Regions from separate parts of the Homo sapiens genome. Here all the other regions are reported to be linked to region 2. The links are microRNA targets in miRTarBase. Many come from high-throughput screens and were not tested one by one. Region 2 holds a microRNA gene; each other region holds the end of a gene's coding sequence.

What was found. The annotated mature microRNA hsa-miR-1976 reads CCUCCUGCCCUCCUUGCUGU and lies in region 2 at 2,944-2,963, opposite strand. An mRNA with a match to its seed (bases 2 to 7 or 8) in the 3' UTR can be bound and repressed. Matches are read on the target gene's strand: a 7mer-m8 pairs with bases 2 to 8, a 7mer-A1 pairs with bases 2 to 7 and ends in A, and an 8mer does both.
Region 1: the mRNA of SYAP1 is a reported target of hsa-miR-1976. Seed matches in the 3' UTR shown: 8mer at 2,571-2,578, 7mer-m8 at 959-965 and 7mer-A1 at 939-945.
Region 3: the mRNA of VN1R1 is a reported target of hsa-miR-1976. The part of its 3' UTR that is shown has no 7-base or 8-base seed match.
Region 4: the mRNA of CTC1 is a reported target of hsa-miR-1976. Seed matches in the 3' UTR shown: 7mer-m8 at 758-764 and 7mer-A1 at 2,395-2,401.
Region 5: miRTarBase lists RTTN as a target of hsa-miR-1976. The part of its 3' UTR that is shown has no 7-base or 8-base seed match.
Region 6: miRTarBase lists ZNF283 as a target of hsa-miR-1976. Seed matches in the 3' UTR shown: 7mer-A1 at 3,408-3,414 and 8mer at 3,525-3,532.
Region 7: the mRNA of DCP1A is a reported target of hsa-miR-1976. Seed matches in the 3' UTR shown: 7mer-A1 at 3,093-3,099 and 8mer at 3,613-3,620.

What each region holds. Positions count from the first base shown.
Region 1 is chrX:16,759,541-16,764,154 of GRCh38, reverse strand. SYAP1 (synapse associated protein 1) reads right to left here. Exons shown (of 9, transcript NM_032796.4): 9 at 1-3,923. The coding sequence ends at 3,796. Among named protein-coding and RNA genes, the nearest start is that of TXLNG, 25 kb to the left of the region's middle.
Region 2 is chr1:26,553,040-26,557,536 of GRCh38, reverse strand. It overlaps MIR1976 (microRNA 1976), which reads right to left and starts at 2,995; the gene lies at 2,944-2,995. It overlaps RPS6KA1 (ribosomal protein S6 kinase A1), which reads right to left. Exons shown (of 22, transcript NM_002953.4): 7 at 4,040-4,146; 8 at 3,286-3,323; 9 at 2,799-2,941; 10 at 2,316-2,386; 11 at 1,912-2,000; 12 at 819-883; 13 at 437-539.
Region 3 is chr19:57,451,591-57,456,204 of GRCh38, reverse strand. VN1R1 (vomeronasal 1 receptor 1) reads left to right here. Exons shown (of 1, transcript NM_020633.4): 1 at 1-1,415. The coding sequence ends at 780. Among named protein-coding and RNA genes, the nearest start is that of VN1R1, 3.2 kb to the left of the region's middle.
Region 4 is chr17:8,224,070-8,228,662 of GRCh38, reverse strand. CTC1 (CST telomere replication complex component 1) reads left to right here. Exons shown (of 23, transcript NM_025099.6): 22 at 34-160; 23 at 344-3,848. The coding sequence ends at 483. TRT-AGT1-2 (tRNA-Thr (anticodon AGT) 1-2) reads left to right here and starts at 2,355; the gene lies at 2,355-2,428. It overlaps TRS-AGA2-6 (tRNA-Ser (anticodon AGA) 2-6), which reads left to right and starts at 1,972; the gene lies at 1,972-2,053. It overlaps TRI-AAT4-1 (tRNA-Ile (anticodon AAT) 4-1), which reads left to right and starts at 1,599; the gene lies at 1,599-1,672.
Region 5 is chr18:70,000,413-70,005,026 of GRCh38, forward strand. It overlaps RTTN (rotatin), which reads right to left. Exons shown (of 49, transcript NM_173630.4): 49 at 2,619-3,824. The coding sequence ends at 3,739. Among named protein-coding and RNA genes, the nearest start is that of CD226, 55 kb to the left of the region's middle.
Region 6 is chr19:43,848,097-43,852,710 of GRCh38, forward strand. It overlaps ZNF283 (zinc finger protein 283), which reads left to right. Exons shown (of 7, transcript NM_181845.2): 7 at 1-3,921. The coding sequence ends at 545. Among named protein-coding and RNA genes, the nearest start is that of ZNF283, 23 kb to the left of the region's middle.
Region 7 is chr3:53,284,263-53,288,262 of GRCh38, reverse strand. DCP1A (decapping mRNA 1A) reads left to right here. Exons shown (of 10, transcript NM_018403.7): 9 at 1-198; 10 at 603-4,000. The coding sequence ends at 683. The region is part of intron 1 of LOC107986087 (a long non-coding RNA gene); the gene reads right to left. Among named protein-coding and RNA genes, the nearest start is that of TKT, 30 kb to the right of the region's middle.

The DNA.
Region 1 (4,614 bases), not on the chromosome of region 2:
GCCTGTAATCCCAGCACTTTGGGAGGCCGAGGCGGGCGGATCACCTGAGGTTGGGAGTTCAAGACCAGCCTGACCAACATGGCGAAACCCTGTCTCTACTAAAAATACAAAAATTAGCCGGGTGTGGTGGCACATGCCTATAATCCCAGCTACTAGGGAGGCTGAGGCAGGAGAACTGCCTGAACCCGGGAGCCGGAGGTTTGCAGTGAGCTGAGACTGCGCCATTGCATTCCAGCCCAGGCAACAGTGTGAGACTCTGTCTCAAAAAAAAAAAAAAAAAAAAAGCCGTCAAAGAGGCAAATAAAATACTGCAAGTCAGACATAATCATAAGATTTCTGCTGAAACCTTTTAAATGTCCTGAAATCCTATTTTTAACAATATTTTGATTAAAGCAAATCATCTTGATTACAATAGTGCATCTTAAATCACTGGGAGTACAAGTGTAATTGCTGCTTTATCTCTGAAACAATGTTTCTCTAGTTTTTTTTTCAAAAATTACCAATTAAGGCTGTGGCTCATGCCTGTAATCCCAACACTTTGGGAGGTCAAGGCGTGCGGATCATTTGAGATCAGGAGCTTGAGACCAGCCTGGCCAACACGGTGAAACCCCATCTCTGCTAAAAATACAAAAAAATTAGCTGGGCATGGTGGCGGTTGCCTGTAATCCCAGCTACTCTGGAGGCTGAGGTGGGAGAATCGCTTGAACTTGGGAGGCGGAGGTTGCCGTGAGCTGAGATCAAGCCACTGCACTCCAGCCTGGGTGACAGAGCAAGATTCTGTCTCCAAGAAAAAAAAACAAACAAAAAAAGAAATGCCCGATTTACCAAGAATATTTCTCATCCCCCTAAAAACTTGCCCCCCCTCCCTTTTTTGAAACAGAGTCTCTGTCACCCAGGCTGAAGTGCAGTGGCATGATCATGGCTTACTGCAGCCTGGATCTCCTGGGCTCAAGCGATCCTCCTGCCTCAGCCTTCCAAGTAGCTAGGACCACAGGTGTGGGCTACCACACCTGGCTCATTTGTATTTTTGTAGAGGCAGGGGTCTCCCTATGTTGCCCAGGCTGGTCTTGAACTCCTGAGCTCAAGCAATCTGCCTGCCTCAGCCTCCCAAAGTGCTGGGATTACAGGTGTGAACCACCATGCCCAGCCCTTGGGTCTTTTTAATTTTGGTAGTATAGAAATAACTGGAACCTCAGAGGAGACACCTGTAATGCCAACTAGAAAAACACTGCTGCAAAGGACATCTAGTGGAAGGGTAAAAAGTAAAAAGCAGTAGAAACCTCAGCTTCCCTGAGAGCATATTAGACCAGTGCTTCCCAAACTGTAAATAAAGTCCATTCTCATCCCCTGGGCGTTCTTAGTAACATCAACTGGTCTGGGGCAGGCATTTCCAACATACTGCCAGGGCATGGCCAAGCTACACTGGTTCCTGAGCCACACTCTTTGAGTAGTGAGGCATAATCTCCATAGTGTGATGTTCATATTTTAGCATTTTATTAAGTTTTACAGGTTTTCATGCTTGGTATATCTTGTTGGCTAACCCCTAGGCATGTAATAAATACTTAGAAATTTTCCACCAAACATGGTGATAAATTATTTTGCTCTTTAAAGGAATAACACTTCAGTTACCTATATAATTTACTAAAGCAGAACATTTTACTCCTTGATGAATCCATAAAAATACAGCACAACTGTATTCTTACAGTATGTACAAAATCTTATTTTATCCTTTTATTTTCACAGGCAATGCATAATTAGGTTGTTTTTAAATGAGATATTATGTAAAATTGATAGCAATAACTGTCACACACCTCTATTGCCATTGTAGGGTTTTTCTCTTTCTCTGATACTTTTTTGTGTGTGTTTATTCAACATTTATCAATAAGAATTTTAGTGCATTCACTAAGAGCCAAGCACCGACACATCCTGATATGCTTCCATCTAGGACTTTTAGCTGCTTAAAAACATTTAACATGCTTCTTTTCCTCCAGCAAACTCTTTTAAAAAAAAAATGAAACTCTTTCCTTCAATGAGATTATTTCAGAAGTTGCCAGTCATCTTGGAACCCAAACTCAGTAATAAGCAACTGTGGCACCACAAGTGGAAACCTTTTGATGATGGGCCCAGTGGTTTCATGGAATACACGGGTTTACTGCTATAACCCAAGAGACTCCAGTTGAGACAGTCTGGCTCAGACACATGCATCCACAACTATGAACAGGAGTAATGCCTGGACTCATACCCAGTTCTCTTGTTGACTATATCTTTGCCAAAGGACTACTGACTAGTTTTAATGGGGCCAAGAACACAAATATGTATATTTTTCTTATAAAGAAACATTTTAATTCTATTCCCCTTTATGTAATAAAGGCTTCTTGAAAAACATGAAAGGTTTGGGGAGCAAATGCTTAGGAAGTTTTCTGACATTAAACCACCTTGTTCGTTCGTTCATTCATTCATTCATTCATTCATTCATTTTTGAGACGGAGTCTCTCACTCTGTCACCCAGGCTGGAGTGCAGTGGCGTGATCTCAGCTCACTGCAACCTCCATCTCCCAGGTTCAAGCAATTCTCCTGCCTCAGCCTCCTCACCTTGTTCTTTAAAAATAATCATATTCTATGAATATGTGTCTGCTGGTATAGCAGAAAGAGAAGGATTAATCAATAAAGTCCTAGAAGGTGAACTCGGAGGAACACAATTTTATGAAGACTCACAGTTTAAGACAAAGCTAAAACATTTATATGTGGTGATGATTAAAACAAGAACAACAGACTTTAAGGGGAATGGGCTTCTGAAGGTTATTGTAATACAAAAAGTATGGAAGGTCCCACTTTGTATAAAAACTGTGATGTAAAATTTCTGGTATAGTTTAAAAAGAAAAGAAAGAAAAGGCCCCAGAGAAAAACAAATATTTTCGCACAGCTTTTTTTTTTTTTTTTTTTTGAGACTGAATCTCACTCTATCACCCAGGCTGGAGTGCAGTGGCGCGATCTCAGCTCGCTGCAACCTCTGCCTCCTGGGTTCAAAAGCCTCCCTAGTAGCTGGGATTACAGGTGCCTGCCACCATGCCCGGCTAATTTTTGTATTTTTAGTAGAGACAGGGTTTCACTATGTTGGCAAGGCTGGTCTCGAACTCCTGACCTCCGGTGATCTGCCCACCTCGGCCTCCCAAAGTGCTGGGATTACAGGCCTGAGCCACCACGCATGGCCTGCACAGTATTTCTTAATGTAAAATTGTGTGATGCTTATATCATTAAAATCAACTTATTTATTTTATCTTTTGGCTTTCAGGTGGAATTTTAGAAAATACCTGGCAAGTGAATAGTTCTGAAAGTGCTTCCTCTTAAGTTCTTTGGTATAATTTGGTCATTTTGATAGTAATCAACCCATTAAGTAGGTACTTTAACACCCTCATATCAATTAAAATGGAATGTGGAGTACAGATATTTAGAAAACCATGACTGAGGAATAAATTATATTTTTGACCTCATGGAAAACAGAACTCTAAAATTTTACTTATGTTTCTGTGGCAAAGATAGCCATACTGCCTATGAAGACATCTCTAACTTTATATTAAAGAAATGTTCTATAAAACATCTCTTTCTGATTATTAGAAGTAACTGTTCTATATACTTTTTTAAAGTAGAAGAGGCAAGTTTCAACTTGAAAAAAGAATAATTTTGAATTTCATAAAATTATACTCTTTCATGCCTTCTGATTCAGTAATTGTCAACATCTAGAATTTAATGTCAGTTTGCAGACTGTTAAGGATTATTCTTCTATTTCAGGAACAGCTAATTTTCCTCTTGAAGCATTTTCTCTATTTCCTTATCCCAGTTTTCATCTCGTTTTTCAGATTCTGTCACCACTTCATATTCTTGAAGTTCCTGCTGCAGTTCTTTTTCCCAATCTGCAGAATCCTCTAAAAGAAACAAAGGAGAAGAAAAAGATTCTCTCTGAATTCATAATGCTGGTGTTCACAATTCGGTCCATCTCAATTACCTACGTAAAGTCCTAGCTGCTGTAATTTTTAGTATCTCAGGCTTCACTACTATGTGTGCTCAGAAAAACTCAGTAAATTTTAACAGTGACCAAGGATAAACACAATTAGAAAGATAAATCTGTTAATGTAGAAGCAAAGGTATCAGATGTCATCAATATATTTTGGGTGTTATTTTGCTTTCCCTATGCCTCTGCATTTCCTTTTATTTAAATGGGTAAATGATAATTAATACTTGGTTGCAAGTTAATTTTTACCACTACCAATGATGATGATGGTAGCAAAAGCAGCTAATGTTTATTGAGCACTTACTGGGCTGGGCACTGGCCCAACTGCTTTCTATGTATCACGCTTTTCACCCTTGGAACAGTCCATGGACAAGGTATTACTATTTGCCACATCTTATAGATAGGGAAATGGAGACTTAGGAGAGGTTAAGCAACTTGCCCAAGATCACACCGTTTGACAGCGACAGATATAAGGATGGAACCACATCTGCAGGCTCCACAGTCTATGCTTAACCACTATACAAAGAGCTGTCTCCTTAAGAGTGGAGACAGACACCGGGGTCTGAAGTCAGCCTGGACTCTCTCATGGTGTTCTGACTGGAGCT
Region 2 (4,497 bases):
CAGCCAAAGCTGATTCCCATGCCTGTCCCTGACCTATGGGCACTGTCACCTCTGCTCAGCCACCACACAGTGTGGCTGGGTCAGATTCTTTCTCCCTGACGTGATGGTAAGCCTGATGTGTTTGGTCTTCCCAGTGGGCTGGAAGGTGCCCCGGGCAGGGGTCCTGGCTTTTCTACTGTGGCCTTCACCACCCACACATCCCCACTCCCACTCTCTCACCAGACACAAAGAGACCCACAGAGCCCCATAGTGAGAGAGTCGGGCGGAGTGAGACAGGGACAAAGTCAGTCCCACGGAGCCAGAAACTCACCCGCCTGCCCACCCGCATACCTCGGCCTGTCAGTGTCCCTGACTATCTCTGCCCCCCAAGCTGCCACCGACTCCCGGCTTCCCTCCTGTACCAGCCCAAGACAGACAAAACAGATAAGGGACGCACCCTTGGGTGTGCGGGACGTGAACTCGGTGTCAAAGTAGAAGGTGTCATCAGGCTGAGCCACTGCTGGCTTGAAGGGTGGCTTGATCTCACGACGGTATAGCTTCTGCACAGTGGGGTGGGCACTCTGGTCACCATGGCATCCTCAACAGCCCACCAGGAGCCCCATGCAGGAGGAGGTGCTGGGCTTGGAACATAGGCCATATTGCCCAGCTCTCGGAATTGCTTGCCCTCAGGAGGCCAGCCCTTGTCTTCAAGGGCAGGCTGTGACCCTCTGCTCCTGCGTCTGGGGCCCTCGCTGGCAGAGGCTCCCCTCCCACCACCCTTCCTGTGGCCAAGATGGCTGAGCCCTGGCCAGAGCCCTGGTGTGGGTGGACACACTCACATTCCAGTCAATGGTGGAGTAGAAGACATGCCGCTTGATTTCCTCTGCCCCATCAGGGCCGGAGCCTGAAAGAGCCCAAATGAAGGGTCTGTCCCTGGCTGGCACAAGTCCCAGATATTACCCTGCCCACCAAGCAGCCTCACAGGGCTCTGGGACCAGCTGCTGGAGCAGAGGGGAAAATGGGCTCACTCAGCCTCAAATCTACCCAGCCATCACCCTAAGGCCTGTCACCTACTCAGCATTTTCCACTTTCTGGAGCTTCTGATGAAGAAATTCCAATGTACCAGTGGGAGGAGGAAGGCCCAGAGACTTTAGGCAACTTCTCCAAGGCCACACAGTTAGAACAGAAGCTGAGCTTGTTCTGAGACCTACAGAGAGCCCCACCTCATTCCAAGGCAAGCCTCATCTCTGTTCCTCTTATCCCATTGACCTTTTCAACCATAGGACAGGCTGTTACTCCATTCGACCCCAGGGGCCTTGACTGGACCTTACACAGCTGGTCATGGACCAGATGAACCCAGGAGCCAGGGAAGCCAGCACACACTGGACACCTACTACATGCCGGCATGTTCACACAACCTCATTTCATCAACAGAGCCCTGAAGCAAGCTTGGGATCATCATCTCCCATTGAGACGAGGAACCTGCGGTGCAGAGAGGTGAAGTCACCTGCCTGGGGTCACTTAGTTCATAAGTGGCCTCATTCGTTTAACAAATATTTATAGAGGGACTGTTTTGTGCCAGGCAGTGGGGACCTGACACAGAGCCGGGATTGGGACCTATGCCTTCTGACTCCTGAGCTCATGCTATTTCTCTTGTGCCAGCAGCCTTGGCGGAGAAGCTGTGTGGGGGCCTCTGTCCTTGTCCCCAGAGGGAGTAGGGATGACTCAGTTCCTGCCTTCCCCCTACACACAGGTCAACTCCCCCCTCCACAACACCACACATGGAGCCAGAAAGCAGGGTGGCCCGCGGCATTGTCTGCCCACACAAAGGACAACGGCCCCTTTCAGCCCAGATGTGGCCCTGTGGCCTAGGCTGCAGCTGTACCCGGCTCCCCATCGCCACATCCCCTCCCCTGAGCTGGGGCTGCTTACCGAGCCGGTTGGCAGGATTCCGCTTGAACAGGGCCCGCAAGAGGCTCTGGGCTTCAGTGCTCAGAAACTGGGGCATGCCTAGCTTCGCCCTGAAACAGCCCCCGGGACTCATCAAGGCTGAGCCCTGCCCCAGAGGCCCCATCTCCCCCGGCCCCTGTCCAGATCTAGTTCCCAGCTCAGTCTAGACAAGCCATCCACTAATTCACTTCCCAAAGGCTTCAGGGATCCTACCCACAGGCCCCCAGGGATGAAAGAGGGGCTCTGGAAGGTATAATGTTTAACCCAGAGGAGAGTCTCATTAGAGAGGGTAGCTGAGGCAGGGACAGGGTAATAATATTCTGACCCCCAAACTGGGGCTGGGGCTTGGAGGAGTCCATTGTTATCAGGGCAGGGCTGGGGCTTACTTCAGAATCAGTGTCATGGTCTCCTTCCGGTCCTTCCCCTGGAAGGGCAGGGAGCCCGTCAGCATCTCAAACTGCAGAGGACAAGGATCTATTCAGGCTCTGATCCCTGTCTCCGACACACCTCCCGCCTCCTCCCAGTCAGACCCCTCTGCCCCAGTCCCAGGATTCTTGCTGATACATCCAAGTCAGCCTGGAGCAAGAATTATGCCCGTCCCTCTTGCCTCTGCCAACCAGACCACCAGGAGCAGCGGTGGGGGCGCGAGGCTGGGGAGAAGGCCAGCACTGGGTTAGGCGCGTCCCAGGTGGGGTCAAGCCTGGGATCCTTCCAAGGAAGAAAACTGCAGGTGCATATAGGGTGAGGCCAGCTTGGCTGTGAGAGGAGACGGGGAGAGCCCTAGAAATGATCAACCCCCTCACTGTACAGATAGGGAGACTGAGGCCAGAGGCTTGGGCTGGATCCTTTACCCCTGTCTGGGCACTCACCATCAACACCCCATAGGACCACCAGTCCGCACTATGGGAGTGGCCCTGGCGGTTGACGACCTCAGGGGCCATGTACTCCACTGTCCCGCAGAAAGAATAGGCCTTCTTCTCGTGGTCAATGGCCTCTTTGCTCAGGCCAAAGTCTACAGCAAGGAGGGCAGGAGGACACACCTTAGGACCCCTGCCTTCCTTGCTGCCACCCTTTGCACACCCAACCCCCGTGCCCAGAGGCCAGAAGGCATCACCCCCATGACACTCAGGAGGAAGCTAAGGCCCAGAGAGGTCAGGTGACTTGCTCAACGTTACACAATGAGGGGCTGGGATTCCAGCTGAGGGTGTTCCAAGTCTGAGGCCTGAGTTTTTGACCACTTCCAAGTAACTGGCACGGCTTCTCGGGAAGAATGAGCCCCCAGCACTCAGCCGAGACCTATCATGACCTTGTCCTGTCCTCCCCTGGGTCCCGAGGGGGCAGGCGCCCTCCACTCACCAGTGAGTTTGATGTGGCCCTCCTCATCCAGAAGGATGCTGTAATAGAGAAATAGTGGTCAGGGCCCCTCAGCTGTGGCCGTGTGGGTGATGGTGTTACCACAGGGCTGTGGGAGTTGGGTTCAGCCCAGAGGAGGTGCTCCACCCAATTCTCTCTGATGACTGGGCGGGTGTTGCAGGGTGGTAGCAGTACCACGCAGGGGTGTTGCCTATCTTTTTTGCTAATCCTTGAAGCAACTGTGTGAGGCAAGTACTATTAGGGCCCCGTTTTGCTAATGGGAAAACTAAGGCTCAGGGCAGTTAAGTAGCTCTACAGTCATTGAGCTAGTAAGTCTAGCTAGTAGGTGGAGACAGGATTTGAATACAGGGCTGCCTAACACTAAAGCCAGATCTTATTCCAACTCACCACCTGCCCCTGGCTCCTTAGTTATCATTTGAGGGTAGTTAGATATTAGGGAAAATTCTATAGGGCTTTATCAAGGAAAGACCTCTAAAGGTGGCATCTCAAATGTCACACTAGATTAGCAAAAAAAGACGGGCAACATTACCTGCATGCAAAGTACCTGGCCCTTGGTAATGGTAGCATTAGTGACTGGGCAGCTGGCACTACCACCCACCCCACTCACCCATCCCTCAGATTGCCCAAGAGAGGGAGACGTTTCTGGAGAAAGCCATGCCCACCCACCTCAGGATGGCCCTGTCCTAGAAGAGGCCTCCCCTGGGGAGGCTGGGGTGGGGCTGGAGGCTTCACTCACTTCTCAGGCTTGAGGTCTCTGTAAATGATACCCAGGCTGTGCAGGTGATCCAGGCCCAGAGCCAGCTCAGCCAGGTAAAACTTCACATCCTCCTCCGTGAACATCACCTGCAAAAGACAGGAGGGGCCTTCAGCAGGGACCTCCTCTTCCTTAAGAGCTGGGGCACTGGGCAGTCAGCAGCTTCCTGGTCCTGAAGAGCCACCCTGGGAGGACCCTTGGAAACCCCAGGCCATATAGCCTTCTCATCATACAAAGGATTTGAAGTATGAAATGACTAATACGCAAGCCACTCATTGTGGCACCATTCAGAAATAGAAGGGGTGGGAAACAGGCCTAGGGTCCAAGAGTAGAAGGCTGGAATCAGCCCTCTCCCCTGCATAATGGAGTGCTTTGCAGCCATGAACTGGAACAAGGAGTTTCTCCGTGTTCTGACATGGAGTGAGCTCCAAGATATACTA
Region 3 (4,614 bases), not on the chromosome of region 2:
TCCATGGTCCTTTTCTTTAAAGGGATACCTCAGACAATGGCAGCTTTTGGATTGAAATATTTGCTGAATGACACTGGATGTAAGTTTGTCTTTTATTATCACAGGGTGGGCACAAGAGTTTCCCTCAGCACCATCTGCCTTCTCAATGGATTCCAAGCCATTAAGCTCAACCCCAGTATATGCAGGTGGATGGAGATCAAGATTAGATCCCCAAGGTTTATTGACTTCTGTTGTCTCCTCTGCTGGGCCCCCCATGTCTTGATGAATGCATCTGTTCTTCTATTAGTGAATGGCCCACTGAATAGCAAAAACAGTAGTGCAAAAAACAATTATGGATACTGTTCTTACAAAGCATCAAAGAGATTTAGCTCATTACATGCAGTCTTATATTTTTCCCCTGATTTTATGAGTTTGGGCTTCATGGTCTGGGCCAGTGGCTCCATGGTCTTCTTCCTCTACAGACACAAGCAGCAAGTCCAACACAATCACAGCAACAGACTCTCCTGCAGACCTTCCCAGGAAGCCAGAGCCACACACACCATCATGGTCCTGGTGAGCTCCTTTTTTGTTTTCTATTCAGTCCATAGTTTTCTGACAATTTGGACAACTGTAGTTGCAAACCCAGGCCAGTGGATAGTGACCAACTCTGTGTTGGTCGCCTCATGTTTCCCAGCACGCAGCCCTTTTGTCCTCATCATGAGTGATACTCATATCTCTCAGTTCTGTTTTGCCTGCAGGACAAGGAAAACACTCTTTCCTAATCTGGTTGTCATGCCATGAGTCTTTTCTCTTCATGGAATTCAGCTATTTATCATAACTCTTGCTAAGATTTAGGAAATATTAACTACTAGTTATTTGTGATAGCAACATACACATGGCCAGTAATGCTCTTGTCCAGGAAGATCTAATACCAGAGCTAAAAATGAAAGTCATGGATACTGTTACACAAAGAACACTCTATATAACTGTGTTAAGTCCTTCAGACAAGTTCAGGAAATCAAAAAGTTTAAAAAGGGAATTCTTTAGAGATTTAGGGGAGATTTCTCATTTTTGTACTATGAAGAATCATGGAATGTTTTAAAAATATTTTTAAAGCACAGTTTGATTCAGGTGCTTCTTGAACAGCATAAATCCCCTGGAGAGTCCACATGTAAGAAAGACATGTGCAGGCCGGGCACAGTGGCTCACGCCTGTAATCCCACCGTTTTGGGAGGCTGAGGCACTCCCAAATGCCTCAAGTGATCCACTCAAGATGACTTGAGGCCAGGAGTTCGAGACCAGCCTGGCCAACATGGCAAAAACCCTGTCTCAAATACAAAAATTAGCCAACCATGTGGCACACACCTGTAGTCCCAGCTACTCCAGAGGGTGAAGCACGAGAATTACTTACCAGCTTGGGTGACGGAGGGAGACTCAAAATAAAAATAAAAATAACTAAAAGTGGCTGGGCACCGTGGGTCACGCCGGTAACCCCAGCACTTTGAGAGGCTGAGGTGGGCAGATCACTTGAAGTCAGGAGTTCAAGACCAGCCTGGCCAACATGGTGAAACCCCATCTCTATTAAAAATACAAAAATTAGCCAGACATGGTGGCAGGTGCCTGTAATCCCAGCTACTCAGGAGACTGAGGCAGGAGAATCCTTGAACCCAGTAGGCAGAGGTTGCAGTGAGTCGAGATCCCACCACTGCACTCCAGCCTGGGAGACAGGGCAAGACGCCGTCTCAAAAAAAAAAAAAAAAAAGAAAGAAAGAAAGTGCTTCTGCACTCCAGCCTGGACAATAGAGCAAGACTATCTAAAAAAAAAAAAATTAAAAATCAATATCAAAATAAATGAGTATTCTCATAAGCAAGACAAGCCTAAAGAAATGTGAGTACTAACTGTAATGTGGTTACATTTAGAGACACATGAAAAAAAATAAATAAAAGAATAAAAAATAATAAAATAAATGCAATGTGGTATCCTAGGTGGAATTCTGGAACAGAACATGTATTTTGGTAAAAACTGAGGAAATCTCAATCAAAGATGTACTTTAGTTTAATAATGTATCAAAACTGTTTCACTAATTGTAAATAATGCTGTATACTAATATATGACTATATATTAGTAACAACTAGGTGTGCTTGTAAATGAGATATCTCTGTACTATATTTGCAATTTCTCTGTACATCTTAAAATGTTCTAAAATTAAAACTCTATTAAAATAGAAAAATAAGATTTTTTTTTAAAAAAAGGGAAAAGATTTAGAAATTTGGCCAAATATACAGATAACAAATAAGCATATAAAAACTTATTCAGCATCATTAATTATTAGAGAAATGCAAATTTAAAAACCACACTGACCACAACACATCTATGAAAATGGTTAATCTTTAAAATACACCATAACCATCATGGACAAGGAGGTATAACAAATGCAATTCTGCTAAATATATTCATATAAACACTTGTATATGAATGTTCATGGGTCTTTGTTAGTTTTTTAGTCCAACACTAGAAACAATCAAAATATTTATTAATAGATTAATAAATTGTGGTATATTCAATGCAATACTCTTCATCAACAAAAAATGAATACGCTTAACATGTATAAATATCAAAAAATGCTCCATATGAATGTAATGTAGGATTTCATTTGTATAAGATACTAGAAAATTTATAGGCCGGGCATGGTGGCTCACGCCTGTAATCCCAACACTTTGGGAGGCCAAGGCAGGTGGATCACTTGAGGTCAGGCGTTCGAGACCAGCCTGGCCAACATGGAGAAACCCCCGTCTCTACTAAAAATACAAAATTAGCCAGGCGTGGTGGCGCATGCCTGTAATCCTAGCTACTCAGGAGGCTGAGGCAGGAGAATCGCTTGAACCCAGAAGGTGGAGGTTGCGGTGAGCTGAGATCGTGCCATTGCACTCCAGCCTGGGCAACAAGAGTGAAATTCTGAGAAAGAGAAAGAAGAGAAGAGAGGAGAGGAGAGGAGGAGGAGAGGAGGAGAGGAGAGGAGAAGAGAAGGAGGGAGGGAAAGAAACAAAGAAAAAAGAAAAGAAAAAAGGAAAAAGAAAAGAGCAGGAGGGAGGGAGGAAGGAAGGAAGGAAAGATGTATATAGTGACATAAAGTAAACCAGTGGCTACCTGAGCATAAAAATTTGGGTAGGACTGTGAGCGAGAGAGAATAGAAAAGGGTACAAACAAACTATTGAGGCAATGGATATGTTTATTATCATGACTTTGGTGATTGTTTTTATATATTTTACACTTTAACAATGTGCAACTGAATGTCACTAATACCTCAATAAAGCTGTTAGAAAAGAAAAATTCCAAATAAAATCTGGATTTCTCAATCCTCTTTTATAACCTCTGGCAAAGCTGTGTTGATTCCATCATTAGCCTCTCCTCATGTCTTACGTGGGTCAACTCTGATTTTATAGTATCAAAAACTGGAAGCAATGTTGTTGGAAATTCAGAATCTCGGGGAAGAAGAACTGGAGACAAGGAAGGTTATGTCCACCTGAGTCACCAGGAATTATGTTTAGGTTTAAAAAAAAAAAAGACTTATCTCAGAAGTATAGAATCTCCCTTCATTCAGTCATGAGGCTCCTACCTGTGCAGTAGTGGTTTGAATTAACAGGCTTTATGTCTGTGTCTGTCTTCCACTACTATAGCAAAACACCACAGATTGCGTAATTTATAAAGTAGTTTGTTTCATACAGTTCTGGAGGCTGGGAAGTCCAAGGGTATGGCACTGGTATCTGCTTGGCATCTGGTGAGGGCCTTGTTACTCTGTCATAATATGACAGAAGGGCAAGTGAGCATGAAAGACAGAGACAGCTGATTTTATAAAAACGTCACTCTCGGGTTAACAAACCCACTCTTATGATAAAGGCATTGATTCCTTTATAAGGGCAGAGCCATCATGACCTAATCACCTCTTAAAGGTCCCATTTCTCCACACTGTTAAAATGGCAATTAAAATTCAACATACGTTTTATAACGCCAGAGACACAAGAATCCATAACACCTTTGGATTACTTGCTCTGACAATGACTTTGCCTACAGGAGATACACACGTCTGTAGGTCCTCAGAGTTTCTGTATACCCTCATCTCACATAGCCATAGTTACTGAAACATTCATGGATGTCTCTTTACAAGGCGCTCATCCATTCCACTCTAGTTTGCTGGTGTCTCATACTTCATATTAATACAATCACTGTTTCTGTACAGACTATGGTTCCCAAACTGCTTGCTATGGTTTGACCATCTCCTCCAAAAGTCACATTGAAGCTTAATCTACAGTGTGGTAGTACTGAGAGGTGCGACCTTTAAGAGGTGATTGAATCATGAGGGCTCTATCCTCAGGAATGAATTAATCAATTTATGGGTTGATAGACTAATGGGTTATCCTGGGAGAACTGGTGGTTTTATAAGAAGAGAAAGGGCCAGGGGCCGTGGCTCTTGCCTGTAATCCCAGCACTTTGGGGGGCCAAGGCGGGCAGATCACCTGAGGTCAGGAGTTCGAGACCAGCCTGATCAACATGGGAGAAACCCTGCTCTACTAAAAATAAAAACTTAGCGGGGTGTGGTGGCACATGCCTGTAATCCCAGCTACTCAAGAGGCTGA
Region 4 (4,593 bases), not on the chromosome of region 2:
AGGAGCCAGTTAACCTTGACCTTCTCTTTCTAGTCTTCAGCCAGGGTTGACGAGCCCATGACCATGTTCCTCTGGACACTTTGTACTAGCCCCTCTGTCCTCCGTCCTATTGTGCTTTCTTTTGAGCTGGAAAGGAAACCGTCGAAGATCGTCCCATTAGGTAAGGTTGGAGACGGGGGGATCATGATGATAGGGGGATCATGGTGATAGAGATAGATGGGTCCCTGGGAGGAAGAGGGATGAGGGACTGATGGGGAATTTCTGGAGTTAGGGAGGAGAATGGTGGGTGGGAACTAAAAGCCACATGCCTGAGACGTGTGTTTTTCCTCTCTTCCCACCTCAGAACCTCCTCGGCTACAGCGATTCCAGTGTGGAGAGCTCCCTTTCCTGACTCACGTGAACCCCAGGCTCCGATTGTCCTGCCTTTCTATCCGAGAGTCAGAGTACTCCAGCTCTCTGGGGATCCTTGCTTCCTCCTGTTAACTGAACTGCAAGGATGGCCTGAGAGTCCTTCCTTGCTGAAAACCTGAAGGCCTAGGTCCTGGCTCCTCTCCCTACTTGTTCTGTGATTGAACCAAGGACTCCAGATTCACAAACTGCTACTCCACTATAATTTCCCTTCTTTGGTGTTCTGGTGCCAGCCTGCCTTGGCAAAATTGTGGCAACAGGAAATCATGGCCCTATTAATATGTCCTCTGATTGGGACAAGGCACCTGCATTCACAGGCGGCCCTGAGCACCTGGGTTCTGACTTTGTCGCAGGAGCTGAGGGAACAAAAGACTTGCTCGCTGTGGGGTGATGGTGACAGGCCTATTGACCTGCAATGAAGCCCTCTGGTGTCATTTCTCACTGGTACTCATCTCTGGGGTCCCAGGCCTCCTGACTCCTAGTTGTCCACCTCCTAGGAACTCCTAGTCGTTCATCATCATTTCAGCCCTTTGCCGCCAGGGCCAAAGGTGGAAAGTGATTTGGAAGAGAAGAGCTTTTCGTCCAGCAGAAGAAATGGTACCAAAATCAGTCTGTAAAGGAAGTAAATTGGGGAGTTGGCGGCAAGGCAGAGAGCATAGCTATGATGGTCTCAGTCAGTAAGGCTGGGCCCTGCAGGAAGTCAAATATGAATGCCTAGAGGTGTTCACAAGCACAAAGAAGGTGTAGGGGGAGGCAAGTGCCAGGCACAAGCAGGGGCAGGTGAGGACTCTGGGTGACTGTGCTATAGGGCCCCAGGCTACGGTTAGCCCTGTAGGTTTCCCAAGGGCCTGGCCTAAGGCAGATCCTTGATCGATATACCTTGAGACCAGAAGGTGCTCCGAAATCACAACCGTACAATTAGGGGATCTAGGAACAATTCTTTGGAGATACCAATGCCTTTGGCTGGTGTTGCTGCATTTCTTTACTGGGGACTGATAGATGGAGAGGTGGAAAGATGAGCTGAGGCACATCTTTCAGAGCTACTGGGAGGCCATTTCTTCCTGGCTGTTAGGATTTGTTCGTGTTTGGGAGACCTTTAGAGCGTGGTTAAACCCATATGTTGGGATTTATGCTGCTTTTATGGTAGCAATACCCTATATTAAGATTTGAAGTAGACCCGGAAAGTTAGTGGCCGGTTAGCTCAGTTGGTTAGAGCGTGGTGCTAATAACGCCAAGGTCGCGGGTTCGAACCCCGTACGGGCCAGTGGGTGGCTTTTTTTTGTGTGTGTTTTGTTTTCTGACCCTCTGCTGTTATCCGGAAGTTTCTACCCGGAGCCAGTTGCCTTCTGGTAACAGAATTATATTGCACCTACTGCTTCCTATTCCCTGAATCACTAGCGCTCCCGAAGGCTTGGAGGGAGGAGTCTCTGGGCACCCGGGTGAAAGGAAGGTTCACGTGCAACCGCCGCGTCTTTTTTTCCCTGAAGCGCTTTCATGGAGGCAGATGTTTGTCAGTCAAGGGAAGTAAGAAAGGCATTGGATGAAAACGAAGCCCTAAGCCTCGTAGTCGTGGCCGAGTGGTTAAGGCGATGGACTAGAAATCCATTGGGGTCTCCCCGCGCAGGTTCGAATCCTGCCGACTACGTCATATTTTTTTCTTCAGCATACTGACCATATTTCTCTCCAGGATGGGATGATCCAGTCGGCACCCTCCAAACCTCTCATCTAGGAACTCTAGAATCGAGAATTTGATTTAGAGTCTATGATTTTGGTTTGAAATCTATGATTAACGTCTTTGGACATTGAAGGAAATCCGAGGAATGGACAAGTGATGCAAGAGCCAGTTGAGTTACCAAATTAGTTCTAGAAAGATCTGAAAAAGCTCGGTCCGGGTTCCTAGCTCTATATTCTTGTAGATGAATTTCAGGAACCTTTATGGCAGCTTCGGCGCCGTGGCTTAGTTGGTTAAAGCGCCTGTCTAGTAAACAGGAGATCCTGGGTTCGAATCCCAGCGGTGCCTTTATTCAATTGAAACAGCGTGATTTTGCGGCTAAATCCACATCCTTTCATGTATTGTTTTTATATCAGAACGCGTAAGAGTTTCTGTTCTGCACTCATAGCACCCACATTTCCTGCAGAGTCAAGCTGCCACTCCCATGAGATCGCCACTCTAAAAGGTGGTTCTCTAACTTAGGGGCAGAAATGTTGCATAGGCCTAAGGGTCCTTTGCTTAACTGATGCCACACCCCACTGGTGCAGGTGGACTGGGTCAGGCGGCCGCCCCACCCTCGATGGAAGGGGCTGCCCACCTTCCAGGCCTCTTTCTCCACCCTAGGACGTCCCCTAGAACCTGAGCCACTTTGTTTTGTTTGGCTCTTCATTATAGTTCTTTGGGTTTGGTGGCTCATAATGTTATATATATAGTATATAATATAAAAATATATATTTAAATATACAGTATTTAAAATTTGGCACAGCTTCCAGATGCGGTCCTCTAACTGGTCTTTCACTTGCAGTTACCTCCATCCCTCTCCACCAGCGGGATGTCAGGGTAAGGAGTAAGCAGGGATCCGGCTGGCCTGGCCTGGCCTGGCACCAGGTTTCGTGCAGCAGGGTGCAGAAGGGCTGAGGCCATGTGAACAGAGTCCAAGAAAGCATCATTCGGGAGTCGCTAGGGATCCTGGTGTGGAAGGGCAGGGCACTTTTCTGGAGCACTGAAGCTAGGCTGGTTAAGGAAGAAATAAATGCCAGAGATAAGGCAAGAAATAGGATCTGTGAGCTCTTGGCAGGACCTAAACCTCCTTGGAAGATAGGCAGAAAGCTCTCGACACCATTCCATGGCCCACGAACCAATGTAAGATGAGCAAATGGCTTGAAGGAATTGCTACCTCCAGGTCAAGCCAGGGATGCAGCACTGCCGAGACCACGTTTGTGCCAAGCACTGGGCTGGACCCTGTGCAGAACCAAATGAACAAGGCACGTTCCCCTTTCAGCACTAACGGCACTGTAAGAACAGGGAGAAGTGGAATCTAATCTGGCCTGAGGGTAGAGGGTGATCAGCTAAGTCTGAAACACCATGTAGAAACTTGCCATGTATGGCCGGGCGCGGTGGCTCACGCCTGTAATCCCAGCGCTTTGGGAGGCCAAGGTGGGCGGATCACGAGGTCAGGAGTTCCAGACCAGCAGCCTGGCCAACATAGTGAAACCTGGTAACATAGTGAAACCTCGTCTCTACTAAAAATGCAAAAAATTAGCCAGGCGTGGTGGCAGGCGCCTGCAGTCCTAGCTACTTGGGAGGCTGAGGCAAGAGAATCGCTTCAACCTTGGAGGGGGGAGGAGGTGTTGTCAGCCGAGATCGCGCCACTGCATCCCAGCCTGGGCAACAAGAGTGAAACTCCGTCTCAAAAAAATGAAATAAAATAAACGAATGATCAGCTGTTTGTTAGTTCTTGGTTATTAAAAGTGGGGTCTATGTACGCACTTTTCTGAGGAAAAAATAAAGTGTGGGGTATGTGGATGGGATTATGTGTGAACTCCCTGGATTGTATACATGTTTAGGAAGAGGGCCATAGCTTTTTTTTTTTTTTTTTTTTTTTGAGACGGAGGGAGTCTCATTCTGTCACCCAGGCTGGAGTGCAATGGCACAATATTGACTCACTGCAACCTCCGCTTCCCGGGTTCAAGCAATTCTCCTGCCTCAGTCTCCCGAGTAGCTGGGATTACAGGCGCCCGCCACCACGCCTGGCTAATTTTTGTATATTTAGTAGAGACGGGGTTTCACCATTTTGGTCAGGCTGGTCTTGAACTCCTGACCTTGTGATCCACCCACCTCAGCCTCCCAAAGTGCTGGGATTACAGGTGTGAGCCACTGTGCCCGGTGAAGAGGGACATAGCTTTCATAAGGGTCATAAAGGATTTAGGCCTCCCCTTCTGCAGCGTTTAAGTGCCTGAGGCCAGGGAAGAGGTGACTGGATTATTTTGCAGAGAAAGCTGGGGCCCAAGGGGAGGGAGACAGGAATTGGAAAAGGGTAGGAATGGGGGAGGAGATGCCAGATCAGCCCTGAGAACCTCTTTACCCATCTCAAAGACTTGGGACACTAATGGGAAAGGCTGGGCTAACTTCTGCTGCCCTTCCCCACTGTCTGTCCAGGGGAACCTGGGAAAGACAAATAGGAGCTGAATCCT
Region 5 (4,614 bases), not on the chromosome of region 2:
AATCCTTTTGGGATGCTGGAACCTTAGTTGTCACAGCCCAACTCACTTTCCAGCACATCCCCTCCCAGAGGGGAGGAAAGTTTGCAAGGACACAAAAGATTTGAAGTTTTTGCTTAAACAGATGTTTTTGAGAATTTTGTAAGAATAAAAAATCACTGATAACATCTAAGGGATAACTATGTACCAGGCTAAGCACTCAGTCCTCTCACCAACTGCACAAGGTAGGTGTCCTCAACCCCAGTTAGCTTGAGCCTGTCCCAGGTTTCCAACAATTGCAGTGGTGAGGCCAGGGTTAATTCCTGGTCCACAGGACTCAAGAGCCCTCTACTCTTAACCGCTCTATTATGCTCTCTCATTCACTGAGATAACTGCAAGCAGATCTTAATGCAGAAGCGGGGATGCCAGTCATTACTCTTACCCATCACTCTGGCAAATCCGAGGAACATCACGGGTCAAGAAGCAGACCTGGGGCTCTGGCAACCTCAAGAAATGGGGAATACACAAGGTGCAGCCCCAAAGACTGATGATGCAAAATGACACGGATGAAGAGTCCATTTAACACTACAAAGGAAAATTGGTGATCTGGAGTTAAATAGGCAAAATTCTGTTTTGTTTTTTTTTTTTTTTTGCTCCATTATTTATAGAACACCAAAAAAAGAGGTACATTCAGCTATTCATTTCTGTAAGTGTTTTTAGGAAGAGTGGCAAAAGGGTCTAGCCAGGTCTGCTAACACCACTTTCCTACTAGCTTCCTGTTTTCAAAACTAATGGCTGCCTCCTCCCTCAAACTGCTCAAGTCTTAAGCCCAGAAGCCTCAGTATCAATGTCTGCACTTCATGTGTGACGTGGCACTACCTTTTTGTGCTTCCATAGCGCACATACACTAACTCAGCCCACCAAAAATGCTAGGATATGGAGAAATTGGACACCATGAAGTATGAACTAGTCCCCTGCACCTATTTCCTGGATCCTTGCTTAAACTTGGGCAGGTGTGAAAGAAAAAATACTTGGTTCACATTCAAGAGACCCAGATTCAAGTCCTGATTTCATCAGGCAGCAGTTAAGTGATATGAAATAATTTTCGTGTTCTAGGCAGTTTTCTGTAATCATGGGGATTAATCAGTGGTTCTCAAACTGTGGTGAGCAGAACCTGGAGAGCTTGCTAAAAATTCTCCTAGACACAAGTCTGCCTCATTGAGCCCAGGAATCTGCATTTCAGTGCACACACCTGAGGATTCTGATGCTGGTCCGCAAGGGAGAGGCAGGGCAGCTGCTACAGCAGTGGGCCAGTCACCTCAAGGCTCCTGCTGAGACGTCTTCCCCACTGGCTGACGGTGCATAATCCCAGGAGACCCAGTTGCAAGGACTGTCCCCCAGGATCTGGACCACAGCGTGCACCCGAGCTTCACATTCCTGGACACCAAGAGAGGCAAACGCAAGTTCCCCTAAAGCCATGGCCCCTCTCCTTTCTCCAAGGTCTGCAGTCCTCCTGGGCTTTGGCAGGTAACATTTCTGGGTGGTTCTGACTACTAGGCTACAAATCTCCCTCTGGTACTACTGTGAACTGCTAGGGAAAATGATCAGTTACAACAATTCTTCCTGGTTCCAAGAAGATGAGGTAGTGCCTACTCTGATATGTGAATCAGTCAATCAATGAACCATAATATAATTTCCCTGAAGAGAACAAATTTTTGTTGAAAAATGGTGTTTATCTATAAGATTCAAACACAAAAAGAGATATTTCAGTGGGGGTGGTAGAGGGGCAGAATAAATGGTTTATAAAGAAAAGTGGTTTATAAAGAAAAGCAAACTTCTTCGCAGTTATCCTGGGTTCCAACCTCCACTTCACTGATAACCAGCCACAGTCAATGAGCACATTACTTAACCGCTCTGCGCCTCCGCTTATTCACCTGGAACACAAAGACATTAGTAGTATTTTAGAAAAAGATAGATTAAATGATAAAAGTTCCGAGAATAATAGCTGGGACATAGAAGGAGGAGTTATAAAGGAGTTATGAAGGGAGTTAGAAATTCATTTCATTTATTTATCAGTGAGGGCTGATTAGAGAATTCCAGAAAAATGGCAAAAAATATAAGATATCGGGAGAAAAGGGAAAAATAATTCCCAAGATTCCTGCTCTCAGAATTGACGAGTTTTCCGCTACACATTAACTTGGGCAGCTCAGAAACTTCTGAGCTTCCTAGATTTATTTTTCAGATCTCGAATCAATTAATTCTCAGACATTACAAACTTAACTGTTACTATTTCTGTATTTAACATAAATTTTGTCATACTTCCAGCTTAAATAACATCATTGCTTATTTTATTGCTGTTAGCAATTTAACAGCACTTAAAATGATATTTTTCTTTCAGTTTTTCTGAAAACATTATCCTAAATGAATATATATGTATACATGTATATGACATATATGTATATACAAACATATATATATTAATACTTCACCTTTTATTTCTCTTACACACAATTTTCTCACTTTCAAAAGTGTTGGGAAAGTTGCTGAAAGTGATTAGTACTTGATTTTGGTTTAAGTGCGGAATTCAAAACTACAGGTTAAGTAAGATTATGTAATAGAGTATAGAGCTTGTTCCTCCTGCATTTTTTTTTTTTTTTTTTTTTTTTGAGACAGAGTCTTGCTTTGTCACCCACGCTGGAATGCAGTGGCATGATCTCAGCTCACTGCAACCTCCCTGCCTCCCAGGTTGAAGAGATTCTCGTGCCTCAGCCACTGGAGTAGCTGAGATTATAGACGCTCAAGACCAGGAATGGCTAATTTTTGTATTTTTAGGAGAGATGGGATTTCACCAAGTTGCCCAAGCTGGTCTCAAACTCCTGGCCTCAAGTGATCCACCTACCTCGGTCTCCCAAAGAGCTGAAAGTATAAGCATGAGCCACCAAGCCCGGCCATCTTCTGCATTTTTCAGTCTTACTCTATTCTTCATGATGTTTTGGGCTGAGCTAAATTTGAACCCAGGCTTATACAGCCCCAACTCTATTTCTTTCTTCTTTATTACACAGCCTTGCAGAAGACAACGGTGAAGATTATACATGTAATGATTTAAGAGTCATCTAGGAAGAAGATAACATCACTAAAACTTGCCTAAGAAAGCTACTTACAAATCATGTACATTTACTTCCACACAGCCCTTTACAAATAATGCACACTTACTTCTACATAGCCCTTTTCCAGTGTGGATGCTCTGGATAACAGAAAGTTTTGAAAATAAGGATTTGCACTGACAGAGCCAAATTTTACATCAGTTAAAATTTAAAAAAAGAGAGAAACAACCAGGACACAGTGTCTTATTTCAACTCCTAAAATTAATATTCATGAGACTGATAAAAGTCTGTAAGCAGCAATTATTAGTCAATTTTTAGTTTCTAAAAATATTGTTTTATTAAATAACTGTTAAATAGGATTTTTACAAAATAAATGGCATAGAAAAGGGTAAAAATGTTTATGTTCCCAGAACTTTCTATGCCTTTTCAACAGAAAGGAAAAGGCACAGAAAGTTGTCAGCTGCTATTACTTCTGGAGAGCTGCCACAACTGGACGGTGTTGGAGTATCACCAGTTCTCTCTCTCATGGGAAAGAAGGGGATCAACACTTTGTAGAGAGGTAGCACGTCTTCAGGTAACAGCTGCTACACACAGCTGGCTTCAACTTTAGCTCCCCTGTTGATGACTGTCAGCTTCAAGGTGTAGCATCCCATGGCACTCAGGAAGAATTAAGGAGCTGCACGAGGTTTTCAAGACATTTCAAATAATAGGCATTTAGAGGGTTTGCTTCTGAGTTTGGGAAAGCTGAGATAGAAAAATAAGAGTACAGAAATACTAGTTTATGAAACTTGGTACTATACTTAGGAGGCACACACATAAACAAATACATATGAACAGGATTTATATATAATTTAAAGCTCTAAGTTCTTGATGTAATAGCATTCCAGAATATTTTGCATTTTTTAAAAAATAAACAAGTTACAAAATCAATATTTTTTTAAATTAACAGCTTACCCAGAGTATTTTTTAAAAAGTACCCCCCATAATGGATACCATTAACTATAATTCCAAATGAATGCCATTAATCTTTTTTTATGTACCATCCTTCCTAAAGCATAATCTTTAACTTCACTAGCTCCAGAAATTCATGGTCGCAGCTAAAACAAACTAAAACCTCCCCTGCTTAAAAAAAAAAATCAGACTATAAAAACACAAATAACCAACAGATATATTACAGTACAGGAAAGACACAATTCAGTGTTTTAGCATAAAAAATGTTCAGAGAATAACGCTCACTGAAATTTGGTGTCACTAAAAATGAATAATGTGCTTTGAAAAGAAAACCGTCTCTAGTATTGTGACCACATCACAGGGAAACGTGGATATAAGGGTAACAGGATCAATTCTTGGAAGACTGTCCTCCAGCTCCCTGATGTTAGATCCAGGTTTTCTGCTCACAGTTAATTCTAATTGGGCCAGTTCTTATCACTAAGAACATACTTCAGCACAGTGGTCACTGTTGGCAAAGAAAATTTAGTACAAAAATAAGACGAAGATCACAGATGCATTTTTAGAAGCAATCACATCTTAAACC
Region 6 (4,614 bases), not on the chromosome of region 2:
GGTATCAACTTACTCGACATCAGGTATTTCACACTGGTGAGAAACCCTATGAATGTAAGGAATGTGGGAAGGCTTTTAATTGTGGATCAAGCCTTGTTCAACATGAAAGAATCCATACAGGGGAGAAACCCTATGAATGTAAAGAATGTGGGAAGGCTTTTAGTCGTGGCTATCACCTTACTCAACATCAGAAAATTCATACCGGTGAGAAACCTTTCAAATGTAAGGAATGTGGGAAGGCCTTCAGTTGGGGTTCAAGCCTAGTTAAGCATGAGAGAGTCCATACTAATGAGAAGTCTTATGAATGTAAAGACTGTGGGAAGGCCTTTGGTAGTGGCTATCAACTTAGTGTTCATCAGAGATTTCATACTGGTGAGAAGCTTTATCAACGTAAGGAATTCGGGAAGACCTTTACTTGTGGCTCAAAACTTGTTCATGAGAGAACTCATAGTAATGATAAACCCTACAAATATAACGAATGTGGGGAAGCCTTTCTGTGGACAACTTACTCAAATGAGAAAATTGATACTGATGAAACCTTATGATTGAAAGTTGTAAAAGAATATTTTGTGTGTGTGTATAGACAACTTATCATAATAAGAACTCTTACTCTTGAGAAACCTTGTGAATGTAAGGGTTGTGCAAAAGCCATTCATTTCTGTTTATGGGCAATTATCTTGCTATCCAGCAATTCATACTAGTGAGAAATATTTTGAATATAATTAATATGAAAAGGCCTTTAGACTTCTGTACAGTCTTATTGGATATCAATTTATACTGATGTAAAATCATTTAAATGTAAGGAATGTGTGAAGATCTTCATTCATGACATAAGGTCTGATTAACATCAAATAATTGGTATTTGTTAAAAAGAGTTTAAATAGGAGGAATGTGGGAAGGACCTAAACTTAATTCAGTTCTTGCTGCACATCAGAGAATTCATACTGCTGTGTAATCCTATGCACATAAGGAATTTGGGAAGGCTTATAGACACAGTAAATATCTTAGAGTACATCAGAGAATTCATCCAAATGAGAAATCATTTGAATTAGAATTATAGGAAGGCCTTTAGACAAATGCTACCCAAATTATTATCCAGAGACTGGTGCAGTCATAAAATTGTCATCTGTCAATTGTGAGATAAACGTGGAAAGTGAGTAAATATTTGGAACTTTTATAGCAATTTGACATTTCCATAACATTCTGTTTTACAAAATTATCAGTCCATAAATGATTGAGAATTGAAAACAAAGTTTGTTCTTTCCCAGAAATAATTTGAGACAAGACTCACACTTTTCAAGACATGAGACAAGTGACAATTTAAATAAGAAATTCTTCACTTGCACCTCTCTGATTAGAATAGCAGAATATTCATACTATAGCAAGATTTGGCAAATGAGGGAATCAAAATTTTCTAATGCCTGTAACAGCATAAGATAATTTATACCAGATATGTTAAATGTGCAGAAGCCTTCCAACACTATTCAGTCTTTGTTAAACTTCAGTAAGTTCATCCTAGAGAGTAACTCTGTTAATGTAACAAATGTAGGAAAACCCTTATCCATGGCAAATACCATACTGTCATCACCATTTCACCTCCATACTACCTGTAGGATGGTGAGCAAAATGCTTATCTCTTCTGGACATGATGTTTCAAATGCTGATGGTAACTAATAATGCTGTTACAGAGATTAGATGGATTTAGTATGCATCATATCCTTGGAAGAGTATCTGGTATGTAGCCTATGCTTAATACATATTAGCTATTGTTCATATTGTCTTTATTATTAGTATTACTACTGGTGAATTCTTAGGAGAGGCACAACCGTTTTGAGGAATGAATTCAGAAAAGCTTCCCATAACCACTCATCCATTTGAATTTCAGATAGTTCATTCTGGATAAGATCTAGTACAGTATAAAGAATTTGAGGGGATTTTAATTCAGAGTTTATCCCTTAAGCTGAGCTAAAAAAATGAGACTTGAAAAAATCCAGACTTTTGAAGAGTTTAGGAAAGCTGTTTTATAGAATGTCACACATTAGTTTCATTCCTCATGGTGAAATTTGATATGGGCCTCTCCTTCACATTTCTCGTAACATGAAGTTGGAAATAGAGGCTTAAACATTTTTTACCAGAACACTTCATAGATGGTGATGTGTACTTCATCTTGCAATACCTCAGAAGCAGATAGTATCCATTTCCCCCAGTATCACCAGTGCCAAGTTTGATCACTTATGGTAACTACTGGAGTTGTCTGTTATAAAGATCCATTATATACCTAATAGGATTGGTCAGCCTTGATCAATGATCTTTGGAAATGTGTGATCATATGGTATGTATTTTACTTTTTTTTTTTTTTGGGACAGGATCTCTCTTTCTGTCACCAAGGCTGGAGTGCAGTGGTGTGATTTCGGCTCACTGCAACCTGCACCTCTCGGGTTCAAGTGATTCTCGTGCCTCAGCCTCCCAAGTAGCTGGATACACAGGTGTGCACCACCATACTGGCTAATTCTTGTATTTTTAGTAGAGATGGGGTTTTGCCATGTTGGTCCAGGCTGATCTTGAACTCCTGCACCTGCCTCAGCCTCCCAAAGTGTTGGGATTACAGGTGTGAGACACTGCGCCTGGCTATATTTTACTATTTGGAAATCACAATGCATCTTAAAATTGATGGCTTCTTGCAACCACTTTCAACCAGGTGCCTGTCATGATTTAGTGCTAGCATCAAGGCAGGTTAGTTATGAAGAAATAGAGTGTGTGTTTATATACTCACACAGTTAGAAATCGACCCTTTTAAAAATTATTTCTTTTTGAAAATAATGTCAGTTCCATCAGAACTAATGCATTGATAACTAAATGTCTGTGGTTCCTTGTCATAGGTCTACACCTGACCTCTCTATTTTGTGCACATAGGGGATTCGTAATATCACTGTTCAGTCAGTCATTCACCATCTAGTGATCATCATTCTACATGATTGCACTTTTTCAAAGGCATAAAAAGCCAACAGTTGCACTCTTAATAATCAACTGTAACACAAAGCAGAGTACTTTGGGAGTTTTAACAGGATATATTATTGGTAACTGGCTATTATGCCACTCCCTCTGGGTGCCACATTTGCCTGTTAACCAAGAAATGTAGACATGGTGCCTTATCCCAACATTTCTGAAATTATATCTCAAGGAATCACCAGTGCTTACTAGTACTTGACAATGAAGGAGGATTTTACAGTTAAAGAAGCTTATAAAGTAGCATCTACTAAATCCCCTCCTAAGGAACAAGCAAAAGCACCTCACCAGCTTATCAAAAGACTAAAGAGAAGTGAAAAAAAAAAAAAGACGGCCGGGCGCGGTGGCTCATGCCTGTAATCCCAGAACTTTGGGAAGCCGAGGCGGGCGGATCACGAGGTCAGGAGATCAAGACCATCCTGGCTAACACGGTGAAACCCCGTCTCTACTAAAAATAGAAAAAATTAGCCGGGCGTGGTGGCGGGCGCCTGTGGTCCCAGCTACTCGGGGAGGCTGAGGCAGGAGAATGGCGTGAACCCGGGAGGCAGAGCTTGCAGTGAGCCGAGATTGCGCCACTGCACTCCAGCCTGGGCGACAGAGCGAGACTCCGTCTCAAAAAAATAAAAATAAAAAAAGACTAAGGAGTATTCTAGTGAAGAAAATGGTTGAACTTTGTTTAAACTGGTGTATGGCAAACTTCACTGTTGAAATACTTATTCCCATGACCTATTATCTTTGTAGGTGGGTGAAATTGCATTGGGAACTGCTGCTATAACCAAAAGAGAATTTCAGTCACCATGTCTGGTTGTTAGCTATGATGGAATGGCAGCATCATGGTCTCAGTTATGAGTGAAAATCTTTGTTGTAGCTAAGTAGTGGTGCCTCCTGAGTTTTATTAAATGCCGTTTCACTATCTTTTTCTGCACTTCTATAGTATTTAATTTGTTCATGTGATAATTTATTCTGATAGATTCACTGACTTTTTCCCATTCCTGGATATTCCAGGTTAGTCATAGTATCCTTCTGATGCATTGCTTGATTTCATTTTGCCATTTTATTTAGTATTTTTGCATCTCATGAGTGAGATTATATAATAGTTTTCTTTTTTATTGTATTTTTGTTTGTTTTGGTATTGCAATAGCCTGTTTTTTAATATTGTATGATCCTATTAGGTTATTTTGTTTGATCCTTGACCACTTTTCTAGTTCCATCTGTTGCATTTTTTTTTGTCTTTTAATTCCTACTTCAGACATAACAGATTTATTGAGTGTTAGCACAGTTCCTTTAAGGAGCCTTCATAGCCATGTAGTACTAGCCAAGATCCGCATAAAAGACGCATCCCAGCATGGCCCCTAAAATCCTTCATTATGTGCTCTTAAGAATAATGTGTTGGGAAGTCAGAACTTCCTTATAGGGCTGTTATGATCATACTTGTACATGTCTTTTGGAGCACACGTGTACACATTTCTTTCTGTATATACTGGGAGTGGAATTGCTGGGGTGTGGTCATGGATACACATCTGTTCAACTTTTTAGTAAGTTTAAATTCTTCTGAACAGTTTTCCAAACAAATGAACCGTCTTATACTCTCACCAGCAGTATATCAAT
Region 7 (4,000 bases), not on the chromosome of region 2:
ACTGCAACGACCACTGCAGTGTCTTCAGTCCTGCTGGCCCCAAGTGTTTTCCAGCAGACAGTTACAAGATCTTCGGACCTTGAGAGGAAAGCCAGCTCCCCTTCTCCTCTAACTATTGGAACGCCAGAAAGTCAGAGAAAGCCTTCCATTATTCTCAGCAAGTCTCAGCTCCAGGATACATTAATACATCTAATAAAGGTATGTAGGATACCAATTTTATCTTTGATTTTTCATTATTTAATGAAAGAAATTTTATAAATTCCTCTTACAGAATCAGTTCATAAAGTAAATTCAAAAGACTAGCTGGAGGCCAGGCAAAGTGGCTCACACCTGTAATCCCAGCACTATGGGAGGCCAAGGCAGGCAAAAAAAAAACAAAAACAGACTAGCTGGGAGTACTGTTTCTCTTTTTTTAAGCATACAGTCCTGGTGGAGAAATATCTGCATGAACTCAAAATATTAATCATGATTGTCTCTGGGTGGTGGGATTATCAGTTATACAAATCATTTATACAATTTTTTTCCTAAGCTGTTACCAAGGAAGTAAAATCTGATGAGGTAAATGTGGCATTCGTATCCTTAACCTTTACCATCTCTTCTAGAATGATTCCAGCTTCCTCAGTACACTTCATGAAGTCTACTTGCAGGTTCTGACCAAGAACAAAGACAACCACAACCTATGACTGGAGCAGAATAAGTCTAAAGGCAGAGCCCCAGCCTCAGAGACAAATAGGCTTCATCATGGAAACTTCTGAGCAGAACATTGAGTTTGAGAATCCTGAAATTGAGCCTATGAGAAAGAGACTCATTTCTTAAGAATGTTTTCCAAGTGACATTCTCAGTGATAATGGAGGTTTCACTGTGAAGCATCACCAGCAGATCCTTGTTTTGACAAAAAAAAAAAAAAAAAAAAAAAAAAAGAGAGCGATCATTGTGTTAAGTTATGTGGGTGTTTTCATCAGCTAGGAGCAAGGCTGTGGAATAAGGAGTCAGATTCTCAGCTTGCTTTCACTTTCAAGGACTTACAGAGGAGTAGTCACCAGCCTCACAGCAGAAGTTCAGCCCGGCCCCCACCGCTTCCCCCAGCCTACCCCATAGAAACGGGCTTTGGGCTGACAAGTCAAGTTTTGAACAGAGTAGAAGGCAGCTCTGCAAAGTAGCTTCTAGTTTTTAGGACCAGAATTTAAGCCGGCAAATTAGGAATTATTTCCTCAAGTGAAGTATATTTTATATGAATGCCCCATTTGGGCCTTAAAAGTTGTGAAATTTCTTAATAGCATTTTGTTTTTAAGTGCCCCAGTCCTGCCCTGCAGCAGGCCCCCAGTGCAGCATTACCATTTGAATAGGGCACTGTCAGGCTCTGGTGGTGTGGACACAGGCATGTCATACCTTTGAAGGAAAGGCTGGGGCTGGGAATGCCCACATCCTATCAAATCTTCATTTTAGGTTAAACTCTCCATTGGTTCTGAAAATGCTAAGTTTGTGTGTGAAGCACAGCCTTATTTTCCTTTTCTGTCATTGTTGATTGTTTTCCTTAACACTTTGACAAAAGGACCAGTGGACCAATCTGACAAAGCCATTCTGGTTCCTTTCCTTGAGTGTACTGAGAATAGTTTTAAAGCTATGCAGAAAAGGGAGCTGTTATTCACACTGCCCTTATTTTGTTGTAGAATTATGGAGTTAAAAGAAAATGTGATTCCGAACTCTACCAATGTATTCCTAGGCTGTGAGTACTTTCCCGGCCCAAAGTGTGAAAATATGTAAAGAAGCTTTGTTATGCTGCTATTGATCTGCCATGATTTCTATTTATTCTTTTATGGCATGTAATGGTGTTTAGTAATATTTTAATGTAGATTTTGATTTATTTCAGCAATAGTAATTTTAAGATATTCTTTGAATGAAAGTGTCTTCGTTTCTATGATACAGGTCATTTTGTAGTATTTAACCAATTAAGATGCACTGCTTACTTTTCTGAGCACTATTTAATGATGGGGTAAAAACCCAATTGGCTCAACCAGCTAGCATAAGGATTAGCTGTGAATAATGCTGACAGATATGATGGTTCCTTAGGAACAATCATTTAAGCTTTAATGGTAACTCAATCATAAGTCCATAGATTATTTTTTTCTAGCTAAAATTTTAGAAAATTACTTGTGAATTACATACTTGTTTTAGTTTGGTCTTAGTTTTTAGCATAAAGAATGATTGGCTTTTGTTGATCTAAACATGCTTCCTGGACAGGGTTTCTGCTTCTCATTTTAGTGTCTTCTATTGCTGTCTACCTAATTATGTGTGAATTGTGCAGAATTCAGGGAAGCTTATAAGTTTTCATGCTCAATTGTGAATAGTTTGTTTTCACAGATAGTATGTAAATTAAGCAACCAAAAATGAATTCCTTATGCATCATCTGGGAACGAGAAAGCTATAGTGGGATACAGAGTGTTGCTGACACCGGGAGATGGTGTCCAGGGAGCCACGTGACTTCCATAAAGTGGACGCACCAGTAGGTGTGATTGCACCTCAAGTGTAGTCTCAGTGGGCTTCGGTGAACAGACGAATCAAGGGATTCTTGAATCGAAATTATGCTTTTGAGTATGTAATATTATGAGAGAGTTAAGAGAGAATATCCTAAAGAGAGTCTGTGATCATACTAATTTTCACCTTTAATGCTAGGAATGGATATGATAGACAGTAAAGAGCATCTATGATAAGGCTTCCTTAGTGTGAAAGTAAACTTAAGTGCCCAAGTCATGGAGACTTGAAAAGGGTAAACCTGTTTCACCTCCCAAATTTATATATTCAAAGTATTTACTTAAAATTCAGAAGCCAGAAGTTCATGTCATGATTACCAGGAAGTTCAGGCCAGAATGAATCCCTAGAGAAGCCAGGCCAAGCCTGGATAATTGCAGCTGGATGACCCTGGCCCGAAAGTCACAGTTCAGTTGCCTTATTCCTAGTTCAGGCTTACTATCTAGAACCTCATGCTAGCTTAGGTTGCATGTTTACATTGCTGCAGTGTCTTTACTGGAAGCTTAGTTGGATCGAAATGGACACCGAGATGGAGATGCTTCTGGCTAGATTTCGCAGAACCCCAGGAGACCTGCATTTAGACCACTCTGTCCATTTGTGTGCCCACCCCCACCCCCAGGGTCTAAGTGTAGACTCCAAGAGGAGCAGCCCAGAGCTTGGAGGAGAGGTGTGTCTGGGGCACCACTGGTGGGTGGTGCTGCTCTTCTTTTTGTTGTAGTTAATGCGGTGTCTTTTAATGGACTCTCAGGCCTCCCAGACAGCCTTGTTCCTTTAAGGCAGAAGCTCTTCTTCATTGTGTACCTCCTGGGATTCATGAGGTGTGAGATTTGGCCTGCTTGACTTTGAATTCAAGTTTTTCAAGTGACTCTCAGTGTCAGAAGAAGCATTTCATGCTGTCCACATGTGGTATGTCCACAGCTCACCTTCAAAGGCTTAGATGTAGCCATCACAGAGAGTGGTATTTTATTAAGAACCCAAGTCCCAGCCTGACCAACATGGTGAAACCCCATCTCTACTAAAAATACAAAAATTAGCCGGGCGTGGTGGCACGCGCCTATACTCCCAGCTACTTAGGAGGCTGAGGCAGGAGAATCACTTGAACCCGGGAGGCAGAGGTTGCAGTGAGCCAAGATCACACCACTGCACTCTAGCCTGGGCGACAGTGAGACTCCACCTCAAAAAAAAAAAAAAAAAAAAAAAAAAAAAAGTCACGCTGGGCCCCTCTCTACAGGGGGACACACAGGCTTAGTTTAGTATATGTCTAACCAGATTTTGCATGTCAAGCATTTGTCCTTTTCCTGGCTTATGTTTTCTTGTAGAAATTATATAAACCCTATCAAATCCACTACTAGGTAAATTTTTAAACCATGCAGCTTTATTACTCTCCTCCCCCAAAGAATGTAGTTTGAAATTTTCTCATTTCCATAGTAGAGGCCCTAACTGCCATTGTATTACTAATAATGCAACATGA